Linked DNA regions of Homo sapiens. The protein of the gene in region 1 purifies or fractionates together with the protein of each later gene. This does not show direct contact. Each region holds a gene or a part of one and is shown in the gene's direction. Other genes may lie near its edges. The genes, in order: KLK15, ANKLE2, STK39, DHFR, DNAAF5, ARFGEF3 and MAN2B2.

Evidence for each region.
Region 2: the proteins of KLK15 (region 1) and ANKLE2 purify together in Homo sapiens (affinity purification with mass spectrometry; one large-scale study listed by BioGRID and IntAct). This does not show direct contact.
Region 3: the proteins of KLK15 (region 1) and STK39 purify together in Homo sapiens (affinity purification with mass spectrometry; one large-scale study listed by BioGRID and IntAct). This does not show direct contact.
Region 4: the proteins of KLK15 (region 1) and DHFR purify together in Homo sapiens (affinity purification with mass spectrometry; one large-scale study listed by BioGRID and IntAct). This does not show direct contact.
Region 5: the proteins of KLK15 (region 1) and DNAAF5 purify together in Homo sapiens (affinity purification with mass spectrometry; one large-scale study listed by BioGRID and IntAct). This does not show direct contact.
Region 6: the proteins of KLK15 (region 1) and ARFGEF3 purify together in Homo sapiens (affinity purification with mass spectrometry; one large-scale study listed by BioGRID and IntAct). This does not show direct contact.
Region 7: the proteins of KLK15 (region 1) and MAN2B2 purify together in Homo sapiens (affinity purification with mass spectrometry; one large-scale study listed by BioGRID and IntAct). This does not show direct contact.

What each region holds. Positions count from the first base shown.
Region 1 is NC_000019.10:50,827,090-50,830,964, reverse strand, and holds part of KLK15 (kallikrein-15 isoform 4 preproprotein), read left to right. Parts: intron 1-400; exon of another isoform or gene 401-435; intron 436-3,149; coding exon 3,150-3,303; intron 3,304-3,803; coding exon 3,804-3,875. UniProt on the Homo sapiens protein: Protease whose physiological substrate is not yet known.
Region 2 is NC_000012.12:132,724,677-132,728,573, reverse strand, and holds the end of ANKLE2 (ankyrin repeat and LEM domain-containing protein 2), read left to right. Parts: intron 1-410; coding exon 411-542; intron 543-1,130; coding exon 1,131-1,332; 3' UTR 1,333-3,071; downstream 3,072-3,897. UniProt on the Homo sapiens protein: Involved in mitotic nuclear envelope reassembly by promoting dephosphorylation of BAF/BANF1 during mitotic exit.
Region 3 is NC_000002.12:168,240,698-168,245,179, reverse strand, and holds part of STK39 (STE20/SPS1-related proline-alanine-rich protein kinase), read left to right. Parts: intron 1-4,482. UniProt on the Homo sapiens protein: Effector serine/threonine-protein kinase component of the WNK-SPAK/OSR1 kinase cascade, which is involved in various processes, such as ion transport, response to hypertonic stress and blood pressure.
Region 4 is NC_000005.10:80,648,161-80,652,642, reverse strand, and holds part of DHFR (dihydrofolate reductase), read left to right. Parts: intron 1-3,148; coding exon 3,149-3,254; intron 3,255-4,482.
Region 5 is NC_000007.14:753,688-758,169, forward strand, and holds part of DNAAF5 (dynein axonemal assembly factor 5), read left to right. Parts: intron 1-901; coding exon 902-1,134; intron 1,135-3,094; coding exon 3,095-3,307; intron 3,308-4,482. UniProt on the Homo sapiens protein: Cytoplasmic protein involved in the delivery of the dynein machinery to the motile cilium.
Region 6 is NC_000006.12:138,339,617-138,343,210, forward strand, and holds part of ARFGEF3 (brefeldin A-inhibited guanine nucleotide-exchange protein 3), read left to right. Parts: 3' UTR 1-3,594. UniProt on the Homo sapiens protein: Participates in the regulation of systemic glucose homeostasis, where it negatively regulates insulin granule biogenesis in pancreatic islet beta cells. Also regulates glucagon granule production in pancreatic alpha cells.
Region 7 is NC_000004.12:6,608,707-6,613,188, forward strand, and holds part of MAN2B2 (epididymis-specific alpha-mannosidase isoform 1 precursor), read left to right. Parts: intron 1-400; coding exon 401-592; intron 593-1,091; coding exon 1,092-1,344; intron 1,345-2,173; coding exon 2,174-2,284; intron 2,285-2,379; coding exon 2,380-2,572; intron 2,573-4,482.

The sequences.
Region 1 (3,875 bases):
ACAGGGTCTTTGAGGGGATTAAATGTGGTTGTGTGTGAGGCAGAAGCATAAGCCTGGCCCAGGTAGTGCCCCTTCAGGTGTGCAAGCCAGGCACGGTGCTTAGAGCTTACATACAACGTCTATGTGTGGTGGGCACCACCGACCTCATTTGACAAGGGAAGGGGCTGTGGCTCAGAGGGACGGCCACAACATCAAGGTCACCTTGGGTGTCAGGCAAACTCCAGATTGAACTCAGCTGCCACACACCAAGAAATTAATTGTAACCTGATGCCTCTCTTCTGGAGAAATTGGGGGGTGGACTTTCATTAACGTTCTGCCACAAATGACCCTCACTCCTGGGGGCCCCTGAGACCCCCACGCCTCCAGCCTCCCCTCCGGCTCTCTCTGTGCACTCACCTACCTGCCTCGCGCCTGCCTGCTGCGCCCAGCTGGGGCCTCCACCTTCCTCTGGCTTGGACTGGCCAGGTGCAGCCTCGGTGCCCAGCTGTTCAGCCCGTACCCTCCGCCCTTCGGAGGACGACCTCACCCTTCCTTTGTTAAGCCCCTTGTCCACCACATCCGCATTCCCCTGGTCTCACGGGGGCCTTTGGCCCAGTTCCTGACTGTGATGGGGAGAGTGTGGGCATTTGGTCTGGCTGTGCAAATCCTGCCCCTGTGTGGGTGGGAGTGTGCATGGCTTCAACCTTCAGGGGATGCATCCACATTGCCCAGTGGAGAGGGGTCCTGGTCCTGTGACCTTGAATGTCTCTAATCATGTCCTTAAGCATAATGCCATTCTGTGTGTGTGTGTGTGTGTGTGTGTGTACATGCACGTGTGCAGTGGGTATACAAGGCCCTGTATGTTCACATCCTCTCCACATGCATGAGCCAGATCCCCATATGTGAAACCCAATCAGTGACTCCACAGATCTGGCTTGGGGGCTGATCTAGAGATGGATAAATATGTCCTGCCCTGGCTGCCTCTGGCTTCAGCTGCATGTCTTTGACCTTGAATGCCCAGCCCCGTGTCTGGGTGCTGCCCCAGACAGCAAGTCCACATCTGAGTGTTGGCCTTCTGGGTTGGTGTCTGCAGCTCTAACTCTACAAAATGTCTTGTGGGTGAATCACGGTTTTAACCTTGACTTTTTTTTGTTTGTTTGGTTTTTTTTGAGACGGAGTCTCGCTCTGCCGCCCAAGCTGGAGTTCAGTGGTGCAACCTCAGCTCACTGCAACCTCCGCCTCCCAGGTTCAAGCAATTCTGTCTCTGCCTCCCGAGTAGCTAGAATTACAGGCACGCACCACCACGCCCAGCTGATTTTTGTATTTTTATTTATTTATTTATTTATTTTTTAGTAGAGACGGGATTTCACGATGTTGGCCAGGCTGGTCTCAAACTCCTGACCTCAGGTGATCCACCCACCTCGGCCTTGGCCTCCCAAAGTGCTGGGATTACAGGCGTGAGCCACCACACCTGGCCAACCTTGACTATTTATTATAGGTAATTCTGTGCAGATGTCTGACTTATGTTGGCCATCTCCAGGATGGACCTGAACTTTCACACGTATGTCCCTGTGACTAAATCCAGGTGTCATTTGCAAAAAACAACTAATATTATTAAGTAGCTACCAGGGCTAGGTATCACTCACCATACATACACACATGCACACACACACATACACATTCCTACCTCATCCTTACAACAATCTTCATTTTACAGATGAGGAAACAGAGGCACAGACAGGTCGAATAACTTACTCAAAGTTTCACAGCTAGTACATTCGAACCCAGGCTTAAGGACCCATCTTTGTCCAGACCCTGTATGCAAGTGTCTGTGACACTGGATGCCAAGACTCACACTAGAGATGTTGAATTTAGGTCTGAACAATATCCAATTCTGTGTGTGTGTTTGTGTGTGCATGTGTGTGTGTGTATGTATTCATGTCTTAACCATCCATATTCATATACACATATGAACATCTGTGCTGTGATTCTTTTTTTTTTTTTTTTTTTTTTTTTGAGATGGAGTTTCACTCTTGTCACCCAGGCTGGAGTGCAATGGAGCAACCTCCGCTCACTGCAATCTCCGCCTCCCGGGTTCAAGCGATTTTCCTGCCTCAGCCTCCAGAGTAGCTGGGATTACAGGCACCCGCCACCATGCCCAGCTAATTTTTTGTATTTTTGTTAGAGACAGGGTTTCCCCATATTGGCCAGGCTGGTCTCGAACTCCTGACCTCAGGTGATCCACCCGCCTCGGCCTCCCAAAGTGCTGGGATTACAGGCATGAGCCACCGTGCCCAGCCTGTGCTGTGATTCTTGAAGCTGCAACCCATGTGCATGCAAGTGAATTTCAGCTTCCAGTCCTGTCCATAGCTGTACCTAAGTGTGGAAGCTGGATGTGCATGTATGCATGTCCATGACCTTGTATAGCCACATCTGGGACTCATACTGCACACTGAATTTGGCTGACATGTCCAGACTCTGGGGCCAAGGCTGGGTCACACATACTGAGTGGCCACATGCGTTTGACGTCTGTGACAATTTGGTGACCGTGAATGACTGGTTTCAAGTGACCACCTGTCTGAACCTGTATCCAGTGCCCCTGTCTCCACCCCCAACCACAGAGGACTTCTTGCCCTCTGGTCTGTTCCCCTTCCTCTCTCTCCCAGAGTCTTATAGCAAATGGGGTGGGGGCTAGAGTTCTGGAGAAAACAGGCAGCGGTTGTAAATAAACAACAGGGCAGGCGGAGCATGGTGGCTCACACCTGTAATCCCAGCACTTTGGGAGGCTGAGGCGGGCAGAGCATTTGAAGTCAGAAGTTTGAGACTACCCTGGCTAACATGGTGAGACCTCGTCTCTACTAAAAATACAAAAATTAGCCAGGTGTGGTGGCGGGCACCTCAGCTACTCGGGAGGCTGAGGCAGGAGGATCACTTGAACCCAGGAGGCGGAAGTTGCAGTGAGCTGAGATCATGCCACTGCACTCCAGCCTGGGCAAAAGAGTGAGACTCCGTCTCAAAAACAACAACAACAACAAACAAAAACAGGGCAGGGTGTCTTGAGAAGTTAGGGGAAAGGCATAGGCATATAGTAGTTAGGGCAGGGTGCAAGGAAGGTGTAGGAGGCAATGTAAACGTCCCTGTCCTCAGGCATCCTCTACCCCTTCTCTTAGCAGCCCAGGATGGTGACAAGTTGCTGGAAGGTGACGAGTGTGCACCCCACTCCCAGCCATGGCAAGTGGCTCTCTACGAGCGTGGACGCTTTAACTGTGGCGCTTCCCTCATCTCCCCACACTGGGTGCTGTCTGCGGCCCACTGCCAAAGCCGGTATGAAGGCAGGGGCTCAGGGTCCTGAGGGAGCCTGGTTCGGGGGGAAGAGCTCCTAGATTTGGGGGAAGACGGAGGCAGACGCCAGAACTCCTGGGTTCTGAAAGACGAGGAGGCCGGATGTCAAGCCCCTGGGTTAGGAAGGAGTGTGTGTTTCAAAGCCTTCGATCTCTGAAGGAGGAAGGAGAAGACTAGTTCCAGCTTTTGAGCCTCAGTTCTAGGGATGTGAGAATCCTGGATTCGGGGACAGACCAGGAGGGGGCTGGGAGTAGTTGGAGGGGATCGAGTTCTAGGAGTGTGCCTGACTTCAGACTCGTTGGTCCTTGAGGAGCAGGGGCTGGAACCATTGGCTTCAGGGTCTTGGGAAAAGGTAATGGGATGTCGAGATTTCTAAAGGGTCGGGAGACCTCGGGTTGCCCACTCTTTGATCTTTCTGTCCTCTACTTGCGGGTAACCACTGGCCCGCACTCCACTGGCGGGAAAACCACTCGCCCGCACAGCTTCATGAGAGTGCGCCTGGGAGAGCACAACCTGCGCAAGCGCGATGGCCCAGAGCAACTACGGACCACGTC
Region 2 (3,897 bases), on another chromosome or scaffold:
GTTGTTTTGTGTGCTGGGTTCTTGAGTTTAAAATGTAGTGATATTTGTCTGGGTGTGGTGGCTCACGCCTGTAATTCCAGCACTTTGGGAGGCCGAGGTGGGTGGATCACAAGGTCAGGAGTTCAAGACCAGCCTGACCAAGATGGTGAAATCCTATCTCTAATAAAAATACAAAAAATTAGCCGGGCGTGGTGGCAGGCACCTGTAGTCCCAGCTACTCGGGAGGCTGAGGCAGAGAATTGCTTGAACCCGGGAGGCGGAGCTTGCGATGAGCCGAGATCACGCCACTGCATTCCAGCCTGGGCGACAGAGCAAGACTCCGTCTCAAAATAAAAAAAAAAGTAGTGGTATTTTAGAAGTCTTTATGTTTTTACCAAAGATGTTTTTGCTTCTTTTATTGTGCTTTCTAGAGAGGAGCCATCAAAACTCGATCAGGATGTTTTGGCCGCTCTTGAATGTGCAGACGTCGACCCCCATCAGTTCCCGGCCGTGCACAGATGGAAGAGTGCTGTCCTGTGCTACTCACCCTCGGACAGACAGAGGTATGTGGGGCCCGGACAGCCTGTCACCCGCAGGGCAGCTTTTGGAAACTTCTGCAGGGTCCAGTTCCACTTCATGCGAACCTATCAGTGGCTTTTCCCAACGCTGGCAGGCCCGTCAGCCAGGCTGTGGATTTGGGTGTTGTGGCTCTCTGCACACAGGACAGAGCTCTGGTTGGGTGGAAAAGCTGAACGGGTCAGCTCCTGACAAGCTGAGGGCTAGAAGGGTGGAAGCAGCAGGGTTTCTACTCAGATCACACAGGATTCTCCGGGAAACCCCCATGAGCTTGACTCTCCCAGTGCCCGCGGTGCCAGGGTTCAGCAGTGCCTCTCCTCCACCCAGACGCATGTGCCCACGGTGCCAGGGTTCAGCAGTGTGTCTCCTCCGCCCGGGCGCGTGTGCCCGCGGTGCCAGGGTTCAGCAGTGCGTCTCTTCCACCCGGGCGTGTGTGCCCGCGGTGCCAGGGTTCACCAGTGCCTCTCCTCCGCCCGGGCGCATGTGCCTGAGTCTGGGGCCATTATTCTCCGACTTTTGCTGTTCATCTCCGGGCCTGTGCCCGTCTGCTAACAGTTCTTTCTTGCTTTCCGCAGTTGGCCCAGTCCCGCGGTGAAAGGAAGGTTCAAGTCTCAGCTGCCAGATCTCAGTGGCCCTCACAGCTACAGTCCGGGGAGAAACAGCGTGGCTGGAAGCAACCCCGCAAAGCCAGGCCTGGGCAGTCCTGGGCGCTACAGCCCCGTGCACGGGAGCCAGCTCCGCAGGATGGCGCGCCTGGCTGAGCTTGCCGCCCTGTAGGCTTGGCGCTGGGCTCTCGGTTTGTTCTTCATTTTTAAAGAAGGAAGGGTCATATGTTTATTGCTAAACTGTCAAAAAGGAATATATTCTGATTAAATTATTACTCCTCACTTTGAGGGTGTGAGAATTTTAGAAGATTTAAATGTTCTATATAACACTTAGATTTCTGATATTTTGGAAGAAGTTAGAAGTTAATGAAAGCAAACTCAGTTACCAATTTTCTGGAAAATATCCATGTGGTAATGGTAGACTTTTTAGGTGGCAATTTCTAGGTCTGAAATATAGCAGAGGAAAGGGCGCTGAGGCAGTTGCAGGCAGGCAGCCCTGTACTTACCCTGTACTCACCTCATCCGACAGACGCTGTGGATGAGGAGGGGCTTGGCGGAGGCGTGAGCACCGATGTCCCTTTGATAACCTGCACTCACCAAGATGAACTATTTGCCGCCCTGTCTTTTCCTGGGTTGGGGGGTGGCATCTGATGGTGGCAGAGTGCCTGTTGGTTCGCCCGTGGGTCTCATGGTTCAGACAGAGGGAGGTGGACGGCAGGGATCAGGGAGCCAGGAGCGCGCCTCAGACTTGCAGCAACCATTGTGATTTGGGTTGTTCGGAATATTTAAATTACTGATCAGAAGATGAAAGTAGCTTTTCTCTTGGGAAGTCTTGCAGCCCGTGGGAGTGATACCAGGAGCAACACAGAGCTCAGCAGCGGCGCCAAGGTGTTCCCTGTTTCCTCAGCACGTGAGCCTTCACCGCCTGCTTCATTCAGGAGCCAGTGCAGCAGTAATACAGTCTATACATTGTTCTGTTTTCAAATTTATCCTGAGGCTTTGTTGAGCATAAATGATTATACGATAAAGGTATCCGTTATTTTGGAACTCATTTCAGTTGGGATCTCCTGTATGCAGAGTGTTGCATTTAGAGGTTTGAGTCCCATCTTGGTTTCTTGCCGTGCTGACTGTAGCCTTCACCTTGACTTGAATGAAGGTCTGTGGTTGGAATGTGTGAGGAGCCGCTGAGGTGTTCAGGAGGTGCTGCCTGGAGGTCGGTTTCTTCCTGGGTGTTACGGGCAACTGCTCACACAGTTGTTTCTCTGTGAACATTTCCAGTGTTTAATCCAAAATGAAAACCCACCAATGCTTTTGCTAACTTCAGTGCCTTTTATAAATCATTTTTAAATTTCCTGAACTTGCTTTTTGAGGATATACAGGGATATTAAGTAGACGCAGGATTGTTTTTGTTTGTAAAAATTCTGAATTGAAACTTTGTTTTAAAAAAAGGCTTCTTTCTTTCATATGACAAGAGATAGGTCAGGAATATTGGAATCAAGATTTAAATGTTAAAATTCGATTTTGTTACACAGGGTGTGTTCATTTGTTTTGTAGCAGACAAGATCTAGATCCCAGACAGAAACAACACATGCTATTCTAAAAAGCCGCATTTTAAAAGGCACCTTGGTTCTCAAAAGAAATCAGAATATGGATATTCGTAGTGATGATCTGTTTTCTCTAAAATCTTACCATATTGTCTGTATATGGTTGTAAATTCAAATGGAAAGTAAAACGTTTTGGCCCTGATTTTGTATGTGGACCACTGCTCCTGATTTCCCAGGTCTTAGGCCACCTTTGACTGTTTCTCCGTTTGTTTGTGGGCAGCGATTCCAGTCCCAACGGAGGCATTCTCGTGTGTCCCGGGGGGTTATGTCCTTCACAAAACACTTAATGAAATGAATTACTTCAAAACCGCGTGGTAATAATTGCAAGCTTTCGGAAGGATCCCTCACTTGTGCCCAGGCGCACGGCACTGTTTTGGTTGGACGGCCATCAACCTGGGTGCCCTCAGATTCGCTCGCTGTTTTTAAGCCCCTTTCTTGACTCAGTTGTGAAAGATTTTCTGGCATCCGTTAAAAGAGCACAGATTTTACCGTTGCTCTTGGCAGTGGGAAACCTTGGTGACATTAACAGTTGCTGTGGTGGCTTTGGTTGGAAAGTGCCCTTCTCCAGCGTGGTGGCAGCTGTGAGGGAGGCGCCCGGTGAGTCTGCTGCTCGTTTCTGGGTAAAAGCAGCCATGGTGCTGCGTACCAGCCGTGGGAGTGCCAGCGGCGCCATGGCAGGGACCACAGCCAGGTCCTCCAGAGCCGTGTGGATGTTTCCAGAAGCCTGCAGAGTTTTCCCAGGGAAGGGCTGATGGAAACCCTCATTGGGGCCCGGCTGTGCGTGCGGGGTGCAGGCGTGTTTGTCGTGGTTGGAAACCCTGTGACTGCTCCAGCTGCAGATTCCCGCCCGTGCTCCCTCCTTAGAAAAGGCTTTGGGATAAACGTCGGCATGGCGACCCCTGGCAGCTGGCCGCCATCTGGTGGCATTGCCTTTCCCACCAGTCTCATTGAGGCTTCTGGTGTGCAGTTTTCACTTTGGCCAGACAGAGGCTATCGTTACTAACATGTGAGAAGTCTTCAGTCTGTCCCAAACCAGGGGACGGTTTCCATCGTTGACGTCGCTGGGCCCCTGTAACTCACCCAGTCCAGACACCCTCAGCCTTCCCCTCATGCGGCTCCCTCCACGCAGGCGT
Region 3 (4,482 bases), on another chromosome or scaffold:
ACTGTTGCCTTCACTAACCAGCTGTGAACTCTGACAGGAAGAGGTGGGCCATAAAAGTTGAATAATGGTATCTGCCACATAATTCTCCATAGAGTCCATAGGATTGGGAGAAGTTATAATCAATTTATATACCTACTTGGTCAATTATTAGGGTTAAAATACAAACGTTGCCTTTTGAAAACAGTATTTTTTTGTGAACTAATAAAATCTTAGTTTAAGTTGAGTGGGATTAATGGCAGGACTTCTTTCTGTTTGCAGTCCCAGCAGTGTTAATTATGGTTGGTCAGTTTAGTGGAAAAAAAGAAATTTACCTGAGGAATTTGAGAACAAAAACACCTGCTTATTCTACCCTGACTTTTGCGCATTTGCATTGTGGGAAGGGCTTTTCTACATTTAAAGTTTATCTCATATTTTCCCAACTAAAAGAGAAAGAGTTGGCCTGTGTGGAGGCCCTGTTATTGAAAAATCAAATTGCTGGAATAGGTTTTTCGCAAGGGCTTAATGTTTATAAGGAATTACAAACCTGTTTCCATTTAGGGTTTAATGCTAGTTGAGAGATTAAGACTGAACTTGTGGTTAAGCACTTTTGCTTAAACATTACACGCAGAAGTTAGCAGTTCAAACACTGAACCAGTTTCAACATGAATGCCAGTTGACAGCCTTTGCTTCTACCCGCCATACGGCAGGTGTCATATGATATGACTCCAGCAGTGTGAACCGTGACCAGCAGCAGGAGGCTCAGATGTGCCTGAACAGAAAACCAAAGGAGGCACCGTGTTTTAACTTTCCAGCATGGCACGGGCACGGAGGACTTTTTCTTCATTTCCTTCTGGGCAGAGTTTGGTCCCCCAGGATTAAGAGAGAATAAGTTTACTAAAATCCAAACAAAGCAGGTTCAGTTGTTTGACTTCAGTTTTAGAAAAATAAACACAGGATTTTGCAAACCTAAAAATAAAGTTTTCTCTTTATTGTATTGTTGTTCTTGTGTTTTAAAACGTCAGTGGAGAAATTGTAATGCTCTTAGGAGTATTCTGGTTCATAAGTTTATTCATGACCTGGAAATGATGTAAAATCGATGGGAGGGAGCTTTATATTTACAGAGGGGTTAAAAATGTTGGAAATTATTAAATTCCTTCTTCCAGACATTGATATCCTTGTCTTAGTAGATTTCAAATATTTCTGTCTTTTTGGAGGCTTTCCGACCTGTTTATACTCTTCAGCCTTGTTAATCTTTGTTCCTTACCTCTCTAAAGAAGGAATTTGGGGGTGAGTTGAGCCCCCAAAAGTAGGTACCCCTACCTTTAGAAGTATAAGGGGCACTTAAAGCTATGCCAGTTGAAAACTTAGTTTATTTGTTGGGGGTGTTAATAATATTACCTAGATTTGCTAAACAGGGAATGAAAGTGAATCATATAAGTGTTTACTTGGCCATCCGTAATGGAATGGAGCAGCCTCAATGAACTTCTCATTCAAAGAATTGTAGTCATTGAAGTACTAATTTCTGTATTTGAATTAGGTGATTCCAGCAATGTTGTTATCTTTGCTGAATTTCTTCTGAGAAACCCTAGACTCCTGCCTCAGCAGGAGTTTGTTTGATTTTCTTAGGGTTTTTGCAGGATGCACCTTTCTTTATGTAGTTTTATACTAGATTTCTCAGCATTGCTTCACTTTTGTCCCGGGTGGTCATTTAGAATGACCTAAAAGTAACAAATTGCCATCTTAGTCAACACGAAGAATTTGAGTTCTAGAATCCTGGACATGGTTTGACAGAGGGTTCCTTTGAATGCTTTATTTCTCTCCTGTGAGGCATTGTTTATCCATTCAGGTGCGTTTTACTCAGGTCCAGGTAATAGCACATATGGCCAGGTCTTTAAGGAGCAACAGCCTCTTGTAAAATGAGATTGTAAATAGCCCTGGGCATTCCCACTTTGCTCTGTGCTCTCAGAGTTTCTGTGGATTTCTATGGTTTGGGGGTTAGAATTGGTTTTTATAGATATCCTAGAGGCAGTTTGAGGACAGTGGTACCTTCGCTGGCGCTAGGGTAAGGGAGCCGGAGCACTGAGTGTGTTCTGATCTCCCAGACCTTTATACCAGGCTGCCTTGCTGCTGCAGTGGGTTCTTTGATCTTGATTAGTTTGTTTGTTGTTGTTTTTAAAATACTAAATGATGTCTGAAATGCTTTGTCTCAAGACAGGGCTTTGATTTTCATTTCATTTCACTTTCTTTTTTAATAAATAGAAAAATGTATATAGAAATGTTCTTTTGTATTTTGTATTTTTTTTTTTTTGATAAAGGGTCTCACTCTGTCACCCAGGCTAGAGTGCAGTGGTGCAATCATACCTCACTGCAGCCTCGAACTCTTGGGCTCAAGTGATCTTCCCACATCAGCCTCCTGAGTAGCTGGGTCTATAGGTGCAAACCATCATGCCTGCCTAATTTTTTTTTTCTTTTTTTATTTTTAAGAAATGGGGGTCTCACTATGTTGCCCAAGCTGCTCTTGAACTCCTCCGCTCAGCGATGCTCCGGCCTTGGCTTCCCAATGTGTTGGGATTACAGGCGTGAGCCACTGTGCCTGGCCTCTTTATATATATATATATATATATATATATATATATATATTTTTTTTTTTTTTTGTAAGAGTCTTGCTCTGTTGCCTGGGCTAGATTGCAGTGGCGCCATCTCAGTTCACTGCAGCCTCTGCCTCCTAGGTCCAAGCAGTTCTCCTGCCTCAGCCTCCCGAGTAGCTAGTATTACAGGCCTGGCTAATTTTTGTATTTTTTGATAGAAACAGGGTTTCACCATGTTGGCCAGGCTGGTCACAAACTCCTGGTCTGAAGTAACCCGCCTGCCTCAGCCTCCCAAGTTGCTGGGATTACAGCGTGAGTCACTGTGCCCGGCCTCTTTTGTATTATTTTTATTGTGGTAAAATATACACAACAAAAATTGTACCATTTTAACCGTTCTTAAAGTGTGCAATTCAGTAGCATTAATTATATTTACAAGATAAATACTCTTTTAAATGTGCTGTCATGGGGCTGGGGGGAGAGATCTCAAGATCTCTCTTGAAACTGTGGTAAAGTGACTGCAATCCTTTATTTATGCATTTGATTTTTAACTAGTGATATTATGAATTCTTCCCTGACTTTTATGGTTTATTGTATAGTACATTTTGTGATGGTGTTTGAAAATAAGTTGCAGCAGTGCCGGCTCTGGAGTCTGACAGCCTGGCCTGTTTCATGTCCTGCAATGGCGGTCACTGACGCTGCGACCTTGAGCAAATGACTTAGATGTGTCTGCACTCAGTTTCCTCATTGGTAACATAGGGATGATAAAAATAGGGTTGTGAGGAATGAGAGAATGTAAAGCACTGAGAATCGTGCCTGGCACACAGCATGCTTTCAATTAGTCTTAGCCATAACTTCTATAGACTTCATTTGCTAATCAGATGCAAGTTATCAGGAGAGAACACAGTCCTATCTTTGGCAGGATTCTGGAGTGGCTTGAAGATTTCTGTGCTATGTTTCTAGCAGGGAGGAAGTGGGAAAGAGAGGTTGTTCCCTATTCCCACTCTTGTGCTGGGCTGCTGGAAGGGGCTTACAAGGGGAGAGGCCCCTGGGGATCTGGCTTCCCCTTGCACCTCCACTGCTGTGGGAGGAAACTGAAGAGACCTGTGGAGCTCCTGGCAATTTGGACAGCTCAGGGGTTTAGGTGCCAAATGGCCCTCTGACAAGTGATGAGAGCATCCTGCGGGAAGGTTGCTGAAGAGGAGCAGCCCATTATGAGAGGGCTCCGAGAACAACCTGCTAGGACTGCACTTTTCCTCCACCTCTGAGTTTGCCCGGAGGCTGCCATGCTGGCAGGAAATGCTGCTGACTAAAAGAAACGCTCCCTGTGTGTCCCAGCCAGTGCGAGGACAGAGGCCTTCATTTTCAGATAAAGTCATCACCATTGCTTCCCTGTCTCCTTCTTTCCCTCTTTGCTTTTCCCTCAGTTTATAAATATTCTCAAGCCTGTCTCTTATGTTTAAATGACAAAAGAGAACAAAACAAAACACTCTCCCTACTTCTTTCTCCTCTGGCTACTCGGTTATCTCGTTTCTTCCTTTCACTGCTAAATTGTTGGAAGGAACCTCCCATTCCCTCTCAGCCCACTGCAGTCTGGCTTCTGCCCTTTCCCTAAGAAACCCAAGTTACTCTCTGAAATCACTGTGACTCTTCTGTGGCCAGAGCCAGTGGACACTGCAGTCCTTTTCTCTGCTCTCTGCAGGGTTAGGTGCCATCTTTCATTCTCCTTTTGGAAAGGCATTTGCTTGAGCTTCCATGCCATGCCTTCCTTCTGGACTTCCTGTACTCCCTTGCCTGCCCCAGATCCACATCTCTGTCTGTCTGAAGCTTCAATTACCACATCAAATGCTGAGGGTCTTCCTGACTGTATACCAGTGTTTGGACTACCTTTTTAATGTCTTCGTTTGAATGTTTCACA
Region 4 (4,482 bases), on another chromosome or scaffold:
ACAGACGCCTGCCACCACACCTGGCTAATTTTTTGTATTTTTAGTAGAGACGGGGTTTCACCGTGTTAGCCAGGATGGTCTCGATCTCCTGACCTCGTGATCTGCCCATCTTGGCCTCCCCAGAATCTTTACTATGTCATACACAATTGCAAATGATTAAAACTAAATATTGGATATAAATTGGATAATGCCAAAGGGAAAAATAGTTAGATTTAGGTAATGAGTGATAAGTATGAATTTTGGTAAGACTTTTAAGTTCAGTTTTTTAAAGGAGATCTCTGCCAAACCCCAAAAACAAAGAGCCCTAACATCAGCCTAACCAGATTTCAAATTTCATCTTTTGGCGGTATGCATTTTTAACAGTCACCCCTCAACTAACACATCATCCTCCCTCAACTCACATTCTACTAACCCCATCAATGCAACTCCCTGCCCACCTTACTCAACATATACACCGCTGCTAGCCCCATACCCCGAACCAACCAAACCCCAAAGACACCCCATACGGTTTATGTAGCTTACTTCCTCAAAGCAATACACTGAAAATGTTTCGACAGGCTCATACCACCCCATAAACAAATAGGTTTGGTCGTAGCCTATTAGCTCTTAGTAAGATTACACATGCAAGCATCCCTGCCCCGGTGAGTCACCCTCTAAATCACCACGATCAAAAGGAACAAGTATCAAGCACGCAGCAACGCAGCTCAAAACGCTTAGCCTAGCCACACCCCCACGGGAGACAGCAGTGATAAACCTTTAGCAATAAACGAAAGTTTAACTAAGCTATACTAACCCTAGGGTTCGTCAAGTTCGTGCCAGCCACCGCGGTCACACGATTAACCCAAGTCAATAGAAACCGGCGTAAAGAGTGTTTTAGATCAATTCCCCTCAATAAAGCTAAAATTCACCTGAGTTGTAAAAAACTCCAGTTGATACAAAATAAACTACGAAAGTGGCTTTAACGCATCTGAACACACAATAGCTAAGACCCAAACTGGGATTAGATACCCCACTATGCTTAGCCCTAAACTTCAACAGTTAAATTAACAAAACTGCTCGCCAGAACACTACGAGCCACAGCTTAAAACTCAAAGGACCTGGCGGTGCTTCATATCCCTCTAGAGGAGCCTGTTCTGTAATCGATAAACCCCGATCAACCTCACCACCTCTTGCTCAGCCTATATACCGCCATCTTCAGCAAACCCTGACGAAGGCTGCAAAGTAAGCGCAAGTACCCACGTAAAGATGTTAGGTCAAGGTGTAGCCCATGAGCTGGCAAGAAATGGGCTACATTTTCTACTTCAGAAAACTACGATAACCCTTATGAAATTTAAGGGTCGAAGGTGGATTTAGCAGTAAACTAAGAGTAGAGTGCGTAGTTGAACAGGGCCCTGAAGCGCGTACACACCGCCCGTCACCCTCCTCAAGTATACTTCAAAGGACATTTAACTAAAACCCCTGCGCATTTATATAGAGGAGATAAGTCGTAACATGGTAAGTGTACTGGAAAGTGCACTTGGACGAACCAGAGTGTAGCTTAACATAAAGCACCCAACTTACACTTAGGAGATTTCAACTCAACTTGACCACTCTGAGCTAAACCTAGCCCCAAACCCATTCCACCTTACTACCAAACAACCTTAACCAAACCATTTACTCAAATAAAGTATAGGCGATAGAAATTGTAAACCGGCGCAATAGATATAGTACCGCAAGGGAAAGATGAAAAATTATAACCAAGCATAATATAGCAAGGACTAACCCCTGTACCTTCTGCATAATGAATTAACTAGAAATAACTTTGCAAAGAGAACCAAAGCTAAGACCCCCGAAACCAGACGAGCTACCTAAGAACAGCTAAAAGAGCATACCCGTCTATGTAGCAAAATAGTGGGAAGATTCATAGGTAGAGGCGACAAACCTACCGAGTCTGGTGATAGCTGGTTGTCCAAGATAGAATCTTAGTTCAACTTTAAATTTACCCACAGAACCCTCCAAATCCCCCTGTAAATTTAACTGTTAGTCCAAAGAGGAACAGCTCTTTGGACACTAGGAAAAAACCTTGTAAAGAGAGTAAAAAATTTAATACCCATAGTAGGCCTAAAAGCAGCCACCAATTAAGAAAGCGTTCAAGCTCAACACCTATCATCCGAAAAATCCCAAACATATGACTGAACTCCTTGCACCCAATTGGACCAATCTATTACCTTATAGAAGAACTAACGTTGGTATAAGTAACATGAAAGCATTCTCCTCCACATAAGCCTACATCAGACCAAAATATTAAACTGACAATTAACAGCCTAATATCTACAACCAACCAACAAGCCATTATTACCCCCACTGTTAACCCAACACAGGCATGCCCACAAGGAAAGGTTAAAAAAAGTAAAAGGAACTCGGCAAACCTTACCCCACCTGTTTACCAAAAACATCACCTCTAGCATTATCAGTATTAGAGGCACCCCTGCCCGGTGACATATGTTTAACGGCCGCGGTACCCTAACCGTGCAAAGGTAGCATAATCACTTGTTCCTTAAATAGGGACTTGTATGAATGGCTCCACGAGGGTTCAGCTGTCTCTTACTTTCAACCAGTGAAATTGACCTGCCCGTGAAGAGACTTTTAAGTTCAGTTTTTTAAAGGAGATCCACTAAATGTCAGGATGTCCATCATATCTATGCACATAGATAAGTCCTCAATGTCATCTGTGAGTTCTTGGAAACTGTGACTTTAAGTGAAACAATGTAGAGCAAAACCAATTTTACCATAGGCTACTGGATGTACACAAGAGTTAAGTTCCTAGGGCATATTGCTGGTCACAAAAACATCACCAAACTTCTAAATGAAGGCCAAAAACACTTCTAATAGAAAACACTGAAGTAAATATGAGCTATACATACATTTAAGAAGAATAATGTGCATGTCTTTGGGATGTGGAAGGAAACTGGAATACCTGGAGAAACCCCATGCAGACATGGGAAAAGCATGCAGACTCCACACAGACGGTGGCCCTGGCCAGGAATTGATTATTTTTCTCATCAACGTTAGAAGAAAACGATGTTATTCAAGGACATGTTGTATATAAATACATGAAAATATATGTATATTCCCAAAATATACTTAGGCTTTCTTTGTGATTTTATAGGTAAACAGAATCTGGTGATTATGGGTAAGAAGACCTGGTTCTCCATTCCTGAGAAGAATCGACCTTTAAAGGGTAGAATTAATTTAGTTCTCAGCAGAGAACTCAAGTAAGTACCTTAACATAAATTCACCACAAGAAAATCATGTCTCATAGTGGAGATCAGTATATGATAAAATGAAATTGTATAAAAGGAGCTATTGATGAAGCTGCTTAATATCACAAAGGTGATTATAGAAAATTAATAAGCAGTTATTTATACTACATGACAATAACTTATTCTACTACCTGAGTAATTGATTTCATCACCTTGAAAAGTTACATTAAACATTAAATAGCTCACTGTGGTATCAGATTTGCAAGTTATCTTGAACCATCATTCAGTAGGCCCAAATATAAATTATACAGTGTAATCAATAACCTGTAGTTTCACATAAAGTCAAAACAACTATTTTTTGGGACTTGCTAAAATTAAGTGATGATCCCCTTTCTGGACCCAACCCTAAATGCAATAAAATGTGAATTTTAGGATGGGCTGAAATGGGTCATAATCTTCTACTCTGTTATTCCTAGTTAACCACAATACCCAATAATATTTTGTACTTAACATTCATTACCCAGTGTCTGAAGGTAAAACATTTCAAAGTATTGAAATGGTTCTAGAGATCCTGGAGAGAAGCGGGTATCTCCAGTTAGCCTCTGCTAAGAATTTTCCTGTCCTCCAACCCAGGGTTGGAGTCAGTAGTTCATGAAGCCTGGATATGCCCTGGTGACTGGAGAGTGGGAGGGGTAATCATATTAAGACTGCCCAGGAAGTCAACTCCAATGGCTTGGGAGGTTGAGGGGTGGCCAGAATTGGACCTGTGTTAATCCATTCTCATGTTCTTATAAAGAACTGCCCAAGACTGGGCAATTTGTACAGGAAAGAGGTTTAATTGACTCACAGTTCCTCATGGCTGGGGAGGCCACAGGAAATTTAAAATCATGGTGGAAGGGGAAGCAAACGCATCCTTCTTCACATGGTGGCAGGAAGGAGAAGTGCCGAGCAAAGGGGGAAAGGCCCCTTATAAAACCATCAGATCTCATGAGAACTTAACTATCACGAGAACATCATGGGGGGTACCACCCCCCATAATTCATTTATCTCCACCTGGTATCACCCTTGACATGTGGGGATTATTACAATTCAAGGTGAGATTTTGGCGGAGACACAGCCAAACCATATCAGGATCTAAGGGGAAGGTCTGGGATCTGGCATGTTAATCATTCTTAGTCTAATAATATAATCACCAAAAAGAATGCAGTATCCTAGGGCACTACTTTCTTGGGAACAGTAG
Region 5 (4,482 bases), on another chromosome or scaffold:
GGGACGGCTTCGCAGGCGTGTCTCTCTCATATGGGGACGGCTTCGCAGGCGTGTCTCTCTGATCATATGGCGACGGCTTCGCAGGCGTGTCTCTCTCATCATATGGCGATGGCTTCGCAGGCGTGTCTCTCTCATCATATGGGGATGGCTTCGCAGGCGTGTCTCTCTGATCATATGGCGACGGCTTCGCAGGCGTCTCTCTCTCATCATATGGCGATGGCTTCGCAGGCGTGTGTCTCTCTGATCATATGGGGACGGCTTCGCAGGCGTGTCTCTCTCATCATATGGCGATGGCTTCGCAGGCGTGTGTCTCTCTGATCATAGGGGGACGGCTTCGCAGGCGTGTCTCTCATCATATGGCGATGGCTTCGCAGGCGTGTGTCTCTCTGATCATAGGGGGACGGCTTCGCAGGCGTGTCTCTCTGATCATACACGTCAGCACGTGTGGCAAGTGTGTTGTTTGCATCTCTGTGTGGCTCTAAATGTTTGTTTTTTGAGACAGGGTCTCGCTCTGTCACCCAGGCTGGAGTGCTGTGGCGCAATCCTCCCACCTCAGACTCCTGCGTAGCTGGGACCACAGGCATGCACCACGGCACCTGGCTAATCTTCCTGTTTTTTATAGAGATGGGGTCTTTGCCATGTTGCCCAGGCTGGTCTTGACTTCCTGGGCTCTAGTGATCCACCTGCCTTGGCCTCCACAGGGCTAGGACTGCAGCCGTGCACCGCCTCTGTGAATGTTCTGAACGACGGGGCATTTGTCAGCTTTGCGTCCACCCCAAGACTTGTTTTGAAATGGTGAGGTTGAAACTCACAGGTGTCCCTTAAATGTGATGTGCGGTAACTTGAGTTGTTGAGGTTTTGCTTGTGAATTTCTCATTCTTCTTTCCCTTTTTCGTTCCAGAGCGCCGCCCTGTGCTGGGCTGCCGGGAGCTCGTCTTCAGGAACCTCTCCAAGATCCTCCCTGCCCTGTGCCACGACATCACCGACTGGGTGGTGGGGACCCGAGTGAAGTCGGCACAGCTGCTCCCAGTGCTGCTGCTGCATGCCGAGGACCACGCCACGCAGCACCTGGAGGTCGTCCTCCGGACCCTGTTCCAGGCCTGCACCGACGAGGAGGCAGCCGTGGTCCAAAGTGTAAGTGGCCGTATTCCAGTCGTGGTCGCGGAGCTGTAACTCGAGCTTAAGATCCCGCCTCTGTGGTGTGCGGGGCCCGAGGCTGTACTGTAGCCAAGACAGCGTTCCCCTCACCCCCGGGCCGCAGGCCCTCCCCACACCCAGCCCCTGGGAACAACTGATCTCCTTTCTGTGCCCGTAGGTAACAGCGTGTTGAGGGTGAACCCTTCATGCTCATTTTCAAGCACACTCGGGGGTGCAGTGCCAGGTGCATGTTGTGTAGACGTGTTGTGTAGACGTGCCGTGCACCAGACAGACAGGGCCCGGGCTGCTGACACAGGACCGAGATGCCCAGCGTTCAGCATTGACATCTGGACTGTCCTGAGGGCCCTTCCAGGCCTCGCAGGGGCTGTGGGAGCACCCAGACGGGGGATGATGGCACAGCTTCGGGTGTCCTGCGAGTGGTGTCCCTGGTGCAGTCCTCTTTCTCACTCCCTGTCCACACTCGGCTGCTGGTTATCGCCTCGTCACCACTGGGTACGCACGAGGGAGTCCCATGCTCAGGCCTCTCCTCCTCACTAGGCCGGGCCACGCCCTGCGCTGACAGTCACCACCATGAGGACTTCACACCCACCTCACAAGGATGCTTCCTAGTGCTCAGGAGAACAACTAAAGCTTTGACTTGAGATTTCAGTTGAAAATATCCTCATCTTGAACCTTAAATTCCATTGCAAGGTAGCCTGGCCAGCAGCTTTTACTTCTAGTGGTCCAGGTCACTGTTACTAGCCCAGCGTAGTGGCGTGCACCTGTGGTTCCAGCTCCCGGGAGGCTGAGGTGGGAGGATCGCTTGAGCCCGGGAGTTTGAGGCCTCAGTGAGCTATGATTGCGCCACTACTCTCCAGCCTGGGCGACGGAATGAGACGCTGTCTCAGATAAAACAAAAAAATCTAAATCATTGTGACTGATTTAAAGTAAATGTTCCAGGTTCCATGTTATTTACATGTCATGTTTCTGCTTTTCAAAAACTACCGTGAATTTAAAATTGTCTGTAGTTCTCTGTGGAACCTACAGGAGAGCAAGAGACACGGGGGTGAGGCTGAGAGGACGAGAGACGTGTGTGGGATCCGCTGTGGAATCCCACGGTGCAGAGGGGCTGGTGTGTGTGTGATCCACTGTGGAATCCCACAGTGCAGAGGGGCTGGTGTGTGTGATCCGGTGTGAAATCCCACGGTGCAGAGGGGCTGGTGTATGTGTGATCCGCTGTGGAATCCCACGGTGCAGAGGGGCTGGTGTGTGTGTGATCCACTGTGGAATCCCATGGTGCAGAGGGGCTGGTGTGTGTGTGATCCGCTGTGGAATCCCACGGTGCAGAGGGGCTGGTGTGTGTGTGATCCGCTGTGGAATCCCATGGTGCAGAGGGGCTGGTGTGTGGTGTCCACTGTGGAATCCCATGGTGCAGAGGGGCTGGTGTGTGTGTGATCCGCTGTGGAATCCCACAGTGCAGAGGGGCTGGTGTGTGTGTGATCCGCTGTGGAATCCCACGGTGCAGAGGGGCTGGTGTGTGGTGTCCACTGTGGAATCCCACGGTGCAGAGGGGCTGGTGAGTGTGTGATCCACTGTGGGCTTCCACGGTACAGAGGGGCTGGTGTGTATTGATCAGCTTAGTGATGGGAAGGTTGGGTCACTGGTGTCCGATGAGGGGTGTGTGGTGAACCCCACAGCTGGGACACAGCATCCTTTGGGCCAGACTTCACTGCCTGGGAGGCGTGTCCGGCTCGCTGGCCTCAGGGACGTTCTGAGACCACACCCGGACCCTTGTACCTTTCCTGAGGGCTCTGAGCATGTGCCAAGGACTCACTCTGCCTAACACGGGGCTCTGTCTGGTGCACGGCTGTGTCTGGGAGGCCACGGCGCCGAGAGCAGGAGCCCGGCTGAGACCCTCGGGTTTGGCTCTGAGTTTTCTCATGTTTCTTTCTCGCAGTGTACCAGATCCGCAGAGCTCGTCGGGACGTTTGTCAGCCCTGAGGTGTTTCTGAAGCTGATCTTATCGACGCTGAAGAAGACGCCCTCTGCCTCCGGCCTCCTGGTGCTGGCCTCCGCCATGCGGGGTTGCCCCCGAGAAGCCCTCCAGCCGCACCTGGCAGCCATCGCCACAGAGCTGGCACAGGCCCACATCTGCCAGGCATCTGAAAACGTAAGAGCACTTGGGAGATGCGGGAGTGGAGAGGAGGAGCCTCCCCTGCCCGGCCGTCAGCCATCGTAATGACATGTCTGTGGGTTGCCCTGTGCCGCCAGGCTGGGCTGTCGGAAGCACCCAGCGACGTGTCTGTGGGTCCGCCCCGTGCCGCCAGGCCGGGCCATCGGAAACACCTGCAGTAACCGGAGTGCCCTCGCTGATAGCCCTTGTTCCGGGGCCTCGTCCTGGGCTGTGCAGAGCTCCAGCCCCAGCCCCAGCCCCAGCTGCAGGCGGCCGCTCACGTTTACATTCGTTGCTGCCCCTTTCTTGGCCACACACCACAGTTCACGTGTTTGATGACTCAGGAGGCGTCCATGGCCGGGACCCTCTGGCCCATGCTGCTGGGGGTAGATGTGGGGTCCACGTCATCCCACCCCTGAGGAGCGTGGTCGCACGTCCACCATCCCATCCAGTCCCCAGGGTACCTGCACAGATCGCACGTCCTCAGGGGGCACTGACAGCCTGTTCCCCATCAGCCCTGCCTGGCGTTCCGATCTGTGCTTCTCACAGCCCAGCTGAGGATTTGCCAGAGACATTTGTTTAATTTTAAATTGAGCAGCAAATCCTTGAGCTCAGAAGCTGGAACAGCCTGGGTAGTTGGGCTCAATTGTTTGGAATAATCCATAGTTGTATTCCATGGAAGAAGAGGTGATGGCTTTGCTTTCATTTGAAGGTGAGTGGTCCCTGTCAGTGTGTGTGTTGGACTCAGCACCCCAGATATTTCTGGGACACAGGGCTGCCCCCACCAGGCGGCCGTGCCATGCAGGGCGGGCCTCAGCTCACCCCTGGAGGCACTTGCTCCGGCTCGATCGTTTCCGGCGGCTTCTATGGCCCCAAAGCTGGCCTGGGGCACGGGGACTTGCCACTGTGCTCTCAGCCCGGCCTGTCCTGTGTCAGGCTCCCTCTCCGTCCTCAGAACGAGAGGTGGGGCTGTTGACAGTCATTTTTGTAAACTGTTTTAAGAAACCTGTAAGCAGTTCCTGGAATACATAGAGGGAAGGAAACGGAGCTGGGGTAAGGAAGGGAGCGGGGGAGGGGCCCGGGCCGCGTGCTCATGGCATTTCAGCCATGCTTCAGCTTTTCCCAAAACCCGTTTTTAACACATCATCGAATGTGTGTCAGTTCTCCACTTT
Region 6 (3,594 bases), on another chromosome or scaffold:
AAGAGACCCTGGACTGATGATGGCCCAGCCAAGTATATGGAGGGACAGAGTTCTCTCTGTCATTAATGAGGACATCGGTTTTCACAATTGAACCTCATGCACTGTCCACAGCATCTCACCTAGCTCCTGTATCTCCTGATCTGCTTTTAAAAATAGTTAGTTAGGCTGCCTTTTTACACCACCTTCTCTCTCTCCCCTTGTGGTAATTTTCCAGCCTTCCCCATAGATATAAAACTAGAACACCTTTATGATTTGGGGTCTATGTAATGACTGACCGATAAGAACCCAGGCAGATGCTAACATACTTAACAGCTCGCATTAAAATACTTTAAATCAGGCGTGATGGCTCATTCCTGTAATCTCAAGCACTTTGGGAGGCTAAGGTGGGTGGATCTCTTGAGGTCAGGAGTTCGAGACCAACCTGGCCAACGTGGTGAAACCCCGTCTCTACTAAAAATACAAAATTAGCCGGGCATGGTGGCAGCTGCCTGTAATCCCAGCTACTCGGGAAGCTGAGGCAGGAGAATTGCTTGAACCTGGGAGGTGGGGATTGCAGTCAGCCAAGATTGTTCTGCAGCATGGGTGACAAAGTGAGACTTCGTCTCAAGTAAATAAAACTAAAATTTTTAAATCAAACATGACAAAAATGTTAATATAATTCAGAAGTACCTTGAAATTGAAACATATTTGTGCAATGATCATTAGGCTTTTTGTCCTTGTTGTTTTAAAATGAGGCTTATACAGAGTGAGTTGAGAGTCAAGTAGCCTTCGCTGTGAGACGGTAATGCAGTTATATAATAGATACCCTTGACTTTGCCAGATTCATCACAATACTGCTTATACAGGAAAGTTTTCTCAGAAAGGAAAATCCATTAGTATCAGTCCCATCAAGCCAAACAGAATGAAGACCTTTGATAGTAATAGCAAGAGGTTACAAATAGCAGGGAGGAGGCGAGTAGTGAATGTCACTGTGATTGCAAACCCTTACCTGTATTATCACACGTAGTCCTCACAACAACCTTGTGAGACAAGTGTTGTGTTCCTCATTTTTTCAGAGGGGAACACAGACCCAGAGAGGTTAAGAAATTTGCCCAAGATAACAAGTAAAAGGCAAAGTTGGTTGCAAAAGAGGTGTTTCTGAATTCAAGGGCCATACTCTCTCTCTGACAACATGCTCTAAGTCCATAGAGTAAGCACTCTAGTATGAAAAAAAGTTTCAAGGAACGAGGCCATGAAAATGAGACTATTTGACATCTCAGATCTGTCTGGGATGTTATGGAGGTTTTTAAAAATAAAGTTGAAAAAAGAAAATGAATCATGTTTATACATAAAAAAATCACATGTAACACATTTCAAGTGTTTGAAAATAAAACCAAAATCTAAACTTTAGTCTTCAAGCAGACATTCAGTGTTACTTTAGAAAACTCACTGAATTAGGTGGAAATGATGGAATAATACTATTCATGGCCAGCTATTAACACAGAAGAACATGGCAGTGTGTGTCTGGAACGGCATGCACAATTTGTAAACCTTTTTCAAATATCATTTAATCAACTCAGAATAAAGTGCCCTGTAGCCAACAGTGCCTCTTTACTTGCTTCTCTGGGAAATACATGGTACTAAATTAGTAGCACAAAGTTTGGGAATATGCAAAATAATGGATAACCATTTTTCAAAATGTACATTCTCTGAAGAGGAAGCAGCTGGTTGGACAGGATTTCTTGAAGAGCCAGGTGCTAAGGGCATCAGGTCGACATCCATAGTAACCATGTGCCATAACATCTACACATTTCCACTTGTTTTACAGACAAGGTAACAGGCAGAAGGAAAATCCAGAGTCTTGCAGTAAGCAGATGACAAAACTTCAATATGCTTGGGCACCACTTAGGTGACCCCAGGGAGATTTAGTGTGGCCTTAGGAAAGCAAAAGAGCACTTTTTATTGGAAATATGAGCTTGTCACTGGGAAAGATTTGTAAAATTGATCAAGAACTTGATTTATAATTATGCCTCAAAAAAAAAAGTTCTCATTTAGTAGTGGAGCAATCTAGAAAACATACCTTTTTTGTTTGTTTGGAAGATCCTCTTTCCCTGGCTGTATTGTAGTGTTTGCTATTTGATGTGGAAATAACTAATAACTTAAGATTTTGGAACAGAACACCCTTTAGATTTCCAAAACACAATTCTTATTTCAGGGAAGACAGACCAAAAATATCTCCTGAGATCATTGGTTTCTTTATAAATTGTGGTACCACTCCATCATTGAAGAGAAACCACTACCACACCACTAGCACCATACAGAACCTTTTCTCTGTATCTTTGTACAATACTACAAAGGGGTACCAGGGAGGAGAGAGTGGCTGACCACTTTAGTGACAAAACAGCACTCCACTGCTGGTGAATCCCATCTAATTATGGTCCTTCCACCCTTTTCAACCACCAACAACTGTTCGTACTGTTAATTCCTATCCTGAAGGTTTAACCAGTGGTTGTCTAGTATCTTCTGTCTTTAGAACAGTGGTTCTCAAACTTTAGTACACATCAGCATCACCTGGAGGGCCTTTTTTTAAAATAAGACACAGATTGCTGGGCTCATGGTCAGAGTTCCCAGTTAAGTAAATCAGGAAATTTGTATTTCTAACAAGTTTATAGGTGAGGCCAATACTGCTGTTTTGGGAACTATGCTTTGAGAACCACTGCCTTGAAAAAATTTCCAACTTCTACCTTTAAGATCAGCCTGACTTATCAAACGCTAGAGAAAAACTGAATCTACCCTTGGGCAGATGACTTGGGATTGGATTCTATACAGCAGTCTTGCTCAATCTTCCCAGTTTCCAGTTTTATTATACCAACAATTGGTTTTTACAAGCTAGAAGACAATGAATGTATAAGTTCTATGGAACAGTGAGATAAATCTAAGCTTCTTGTCTTTGTATTTAGAAACATTGATTCTATGGATGATCATTTGTATCATGTTGACCCTTTGACTTGTACTGAAGGTGATTTTAAATTTAAGTATGTAGTGTTTGAATTTCTTCCATCCATGTCGTTTTAATGAGATGTTTCCATGTCAGCTCCTTTACAGCCTTGGCTCCTGGCTTACAGATTTTTGAATAGTTGTTTGCTTGCCAGTTGTTTTACATCTTTCATTGGCCACCAAAATATTAGCCATTTGAGATGAGATGAGACTACTTGTTGTACCTTCATCTTTCATTTAATTTTCTGGCGTAAATTAACATTTTAATTTCATATATATCTGTAAAGAGTCTACCCAAAGGCTTCACGGAAATTTGCAAAATGAACTAATTCCCTTTTAAGCAGCAGGTGTGCCTGTTTTTGACTTTTCAGTAAATATGTTGTTTGTGCACATATCTACATGGTGGAGACCATATTCATTATTTCATCTTCCAAATAATGGGAAAAATATAAAAGTGAATCAGTGTGCTTTGGGAATTCAGTGAAATCATGTTAACTCATATAGAGGGGGCCTTAGTTTATCTCTTCTTTACTGAATTAATTAGTTTTGGAAATTCTTTTACCATTAAAAAAAATTAAGGACCATACAGAGAATGATTTAAGAAAAAACAAGTCACTT
Region 7 (4,482 bases), on another chromosome or scaffold:
AGGCTCTGGCCCATGACATGGGGTCTGTACACATGGGTGTCCTGCTGGACAGCTCAGAGTCAGCATGACAAAAGCCCGTTCCTGCACTGGTTTCGCTTGCAGACCACAGCCTGGGTGAGCCAGTTCCATCTCTTGGGGGTGCCCTCTGCTGACGGCTCACGGTTCCTGTCTGCAGGCTCTGTCCGTCTCCTCGTTTGTGACCCATTCTGGGACAGCATGGAGTCTAAGGCCACACTGGCTGTGGGTGGGGTCTCAGGGCTTCTAGATGAGCTGAGTCACATGGCCTCGTGAGTGCTACGCAGGCCACTCAGATGGCATCTGGAGAGAGAGGCTTGCCAGCCGGTGTCTGTAAGACCTTGTGCAGGATGAGAATGACATCTTCTCTCTCCTGCCTCTGCAGACAGAGTAACCGAACGGTGCGCGTGACCCAGGAATTCCTGGAGTACCACGTCAACGGGGATGTGAAACAGGGCCCCATTTCCGATAACTACCTGTTCACACCGGGCAAGGCCGCGGTGCCTGCGTGGGAAGCTGTGGAAATGGAGATTGTGGCGGGACAGCTTGTGACTGAGATCCGGCAGTACTTCTACAGGTGCTTCCCCTGGGGTGACCCCCACAGCCCGGCACACAGTCAGCGCACGCGTGCAGGCAGCTCAGTGAATGAGGGTCTGTCTTTGCTCTGAACCCCAGCTTCCGGGCCGTGGTTGACACGTGGTCTGATGAAGAAATGAATTGCTCTGGTGTCTGCATGCTGGCTGCGTTTGCGTGTGCTGTGTCACGTTGGTTGGGAGCTAAGTTCAGAGCTGGGAGAGAGACCCACAGACCCTGGGGCCCACAGAGCACCTGTTCTTCCATGATCAGAGCAGACGTAAGGCAGGCCCGGCATGGCAGCCCTGCGGTGTCGGGGAACCAGGCTGCTCCCAGCCGCTCGGGGTCCTGGGTGGTGCTATTGTCCACATGGCCCAAGAAGGCTCCCTGCCTTTCGGCGTACCCTGCCCTGCCCACCCTGCCCACATGAAGGAAGGGAAGCAAAAAGGAAGCATCTAGAAGGTTCCTGGAGCTTCACTTACTGATGCTCCCTTCTCCTCCAGGAACATGACAGCACAGAATTACACGTATGCAATCCGCTCCCGGCTCACCCATGTGCCGCAGGGCCATGACGGGGAGCTGCTCTGCCACCGGATAGAGCAGGAGTACCAAGCCGGCCCCCTGGAGCTGAACCGTGAGGCTGTCCTGAGGACCAGCACCAACCTAAACAGCCAGCAGGTCATCTACTCAGACAACAACGGCTACCAGATGCAGCGGAGGCCCTACGTTTCCTATGTGAACAACAGCATCGCCCGGGTATGTCCTGCAATGCCCACAAGGCACGCTCCCAATGGCGCCTTTCCTGGACCCATTAAGCATCAAATTGCAGCAGTAGAGGCCAGTAGAGGCCTCCAGTGAGAATGTTTTTTTCCTTTTTTTTAAGATGGAGTCTCACTCTGTCACCCAGGCTGGGGCGCAATGGAGCGATCTTGGCTCACTGCAACCTCTGCCTCCCAGGTTCAAGCGATTCTCCTGCCTCAGCCTCCCGAGTAGCTGGGATTACAGCCGCCTGCCACCATGCCCAGCTAATTTTTATATTTTTAGTAGAGATGGGGTTTCACAATGATGGCCAGGCTGGTCTTGAACGCCTGACCTCAGATGATCCACCCGCCTCAGCCTCCCAAAGTGCTGGGATTACAGGTGTGAGCCACCGCGCCCGGCCTCCAGAGAGAATTCTTTTAAAGCCTGTGTATCTGCCCGTTCAGGGCTTGAGCGTGCAGGCTGTGAGTCAGACTGGTGTCTGAATTCTGGTGCTACCACAGACAAGAATAGTATGTGCCTTGGCTTGTGCCTCGGTTTCCTCTCCTGTAAAATGGCTCCTTCATCAAAGGGTCATTCTGAGGATCCATGAGATGATGCGTGGCCAGGGCTTGGCCAGGGCCTGCACCCATGTCAGCTGAGCTGTATGCTAGGAAGCCACAGAGCTGGTGTCTGAACCCCAGTCTGTTGGTCTCCAAAGTCAGGGTCCCAGCCCCATGCTGCTGCTGTGCCTATGGGGAGCACCAGCTGGGGTGGCCAGAGGGTGATGCCTGACCTACCTTGCCCTTTGCCCCAATCGCCCACCTGGCGATGTTTCTGTCTGCAGAATTACTACCCCATGGTTCAGTCGGCCTTCATGGAGGATGGCAAAAGCAGGCTTGTGTTGCTGTCGGAGCGGGCACATGGCATCTCCAGCCAAGGGAATGGGCAGGTGGAGGTAGGAGGCACGGTCTGTCCTACAGCAGCCCCTCGCGGCCCCCTACAGGCATGCCCAGGTGCAAGCCGGGCCTCTCGGACAATGCCTTCCCGCAGGTCATGCTCCACCGGCGGCTGTGGAACAACTTCGACTGGGACCTGGGCTACAACCTCACGCTGAACGACACCTCAGTCGTCCACCCAGTGCTCTGGCTTCTGCTGGGATCCTGGTCCCTCACCACTGCCCTGCGCCAGAGGAGCGCACTGGCGCTGCAGCACAGGCCCGTGGTGCTGTTCGGAGACCTCGCTGGTAAAGGGGCACCCTTTCAGAGTAACATCATCACTGCCTCAGCACCAGCCAGGCCAGGGCGGGCCTTGGGAGGGGCCTGTGCCCTCATGACTCTGGGCAGCTTTTGGGCAGGAAGCGACCTCAGGGACCTCTAGCCCAAGCCCCTCATTTAACAGATGGGCAAACTGAGGGCAAACAGTGGCTCACTTAAGGTCATACAACTAGGAGGTACAGAGCTGGGACTCACCCATTTCACCATATGCCTCTTCCCTGTATCTTCTCCATTTTCTTCTCTGATGTATCTTTTCCTTTCTTAATATGACATTATGTCACCATGTCACTTTAGGTCTGGAGGCTTAGCATTTAAAAGACTGGTTTGTTAGCTGGGCATGGTGGCGCATGCCTGTAATCCTGTAATGCCAGCTACACGGGAGACTGAGGCAGGAGAATCGCTTGAACCCGGGAGGCAGAGGTTGCAGGGAGCTGAGATTGCACCGTTGCACCCCAGCCTGGGTGGCAAAGCGAGACTCTGTCTCAAAAGTAAAAATAAAAGACAAGTTGGGTCTGAATCTAGGTGTGCTGTCACCAGGTGGGGGTCTTTCTAATCTATAGTCTAACCTAAAGGACTTATTCTGTACCTCCACTGAGCTTCTGTAGATCAGATCAACAACCATGTAGTTCTGTGTCTCTATAAAGTAGCAGAACATGAGAAACATTAAACAATGATTACATTTAAAGATGGTCTTTTGGAGCTGCAAGACCTAGATACAATTTGCTGCCATTCTCACTAATCCTTAAACTCTTTTCTTTTTCTACTCACCTATGGAGGTTTTGATTAGCATGTGCTTTTAAGGTTCTCCCTGCTTTGGTTTTAGAGCCAGAACCCAGGGCAGTAGCCAGCAGGCAGGCTGTCACTCACCCATGCAACAAGCATATACTGAGCACTTGCAGTGTGCCTGTGCCATACACTGGAGATGCAGAAGAGCAGCCCGGACCCAGGAGAGTTTTCCTGGGCTGTTGGACAGGGGAGGCATGCTCGTATAGAGCCAGGATTCAGGGTGGAGAAGGAGCCATGCCATAGAGGGCCTGGTGTTTCGTGGGTGTAGAGGAGTGTGAGACCACAGCTGGGAGGAGGTCAGGGATCAGGTCCAGGGGGTGTCAATTAAGGTTCTTTGGAAGTAACAGAGCCTGAAGGGGCAGCTATTTGGGCAGAGCCTGGAGAAGCTCATGGAATCTAAGGAGGAGCTGGATACAAGGTCCAGACAGGCATGGGGCAGGGCAGCTCTAGGCATATCAGGAGCAGAGGCTCACAGCCATGTCTCCCAGGACGGCCATTGAGCCACCTCTGGTTCCCTTGCTTCAGATTCCCAGAAGAGGAAATCTGATTGGCCTAGCAGGGTCAGGTTCTGCTCCCAGACCAGTCAGTGGTTCCTTCTGTGTAGCTGGGGCTTTTCCTGCAAAGGGAGATGAGGCCATGTCTGAGAAAGCCCCATGGCTGTTGTCAGCTCCATCCCACCTGGCCTCACTCTGGTCTCTGTTGGTTGCAAGTAACGGAAACCCAACTTGAACTAGCTGAGCCCCCAGGGAGAGTGTATGGTGAGGCCCACATAACCAAGGGAAGGGCAGGGTGTAATTGGGCCTCAGGGCCTGGAGCCCTCGTGAGGCTGTCCTTGTTCGTCTCTCACCTGCACTTCTCTCTGTCTGCAGACTTTCCTTCACCTCCCACCTGGGATGTGACTCTGAACAGCTCTGGGGCTGCTCTCAAAGAGCAGCTCTGTCTTCCCCACTCAAAAGGACCTAAGACTTGGACTTTCCAGTTCCAAGTGCAAAAGTCCTAGGGAAAGATTCTGATTGGTCCTACTGGGGTCAGGTGGCCCATGCCTGGACCAATCAGCATGGCCTGGGGTATTGTAAGAAGATGGTAGCTCCAG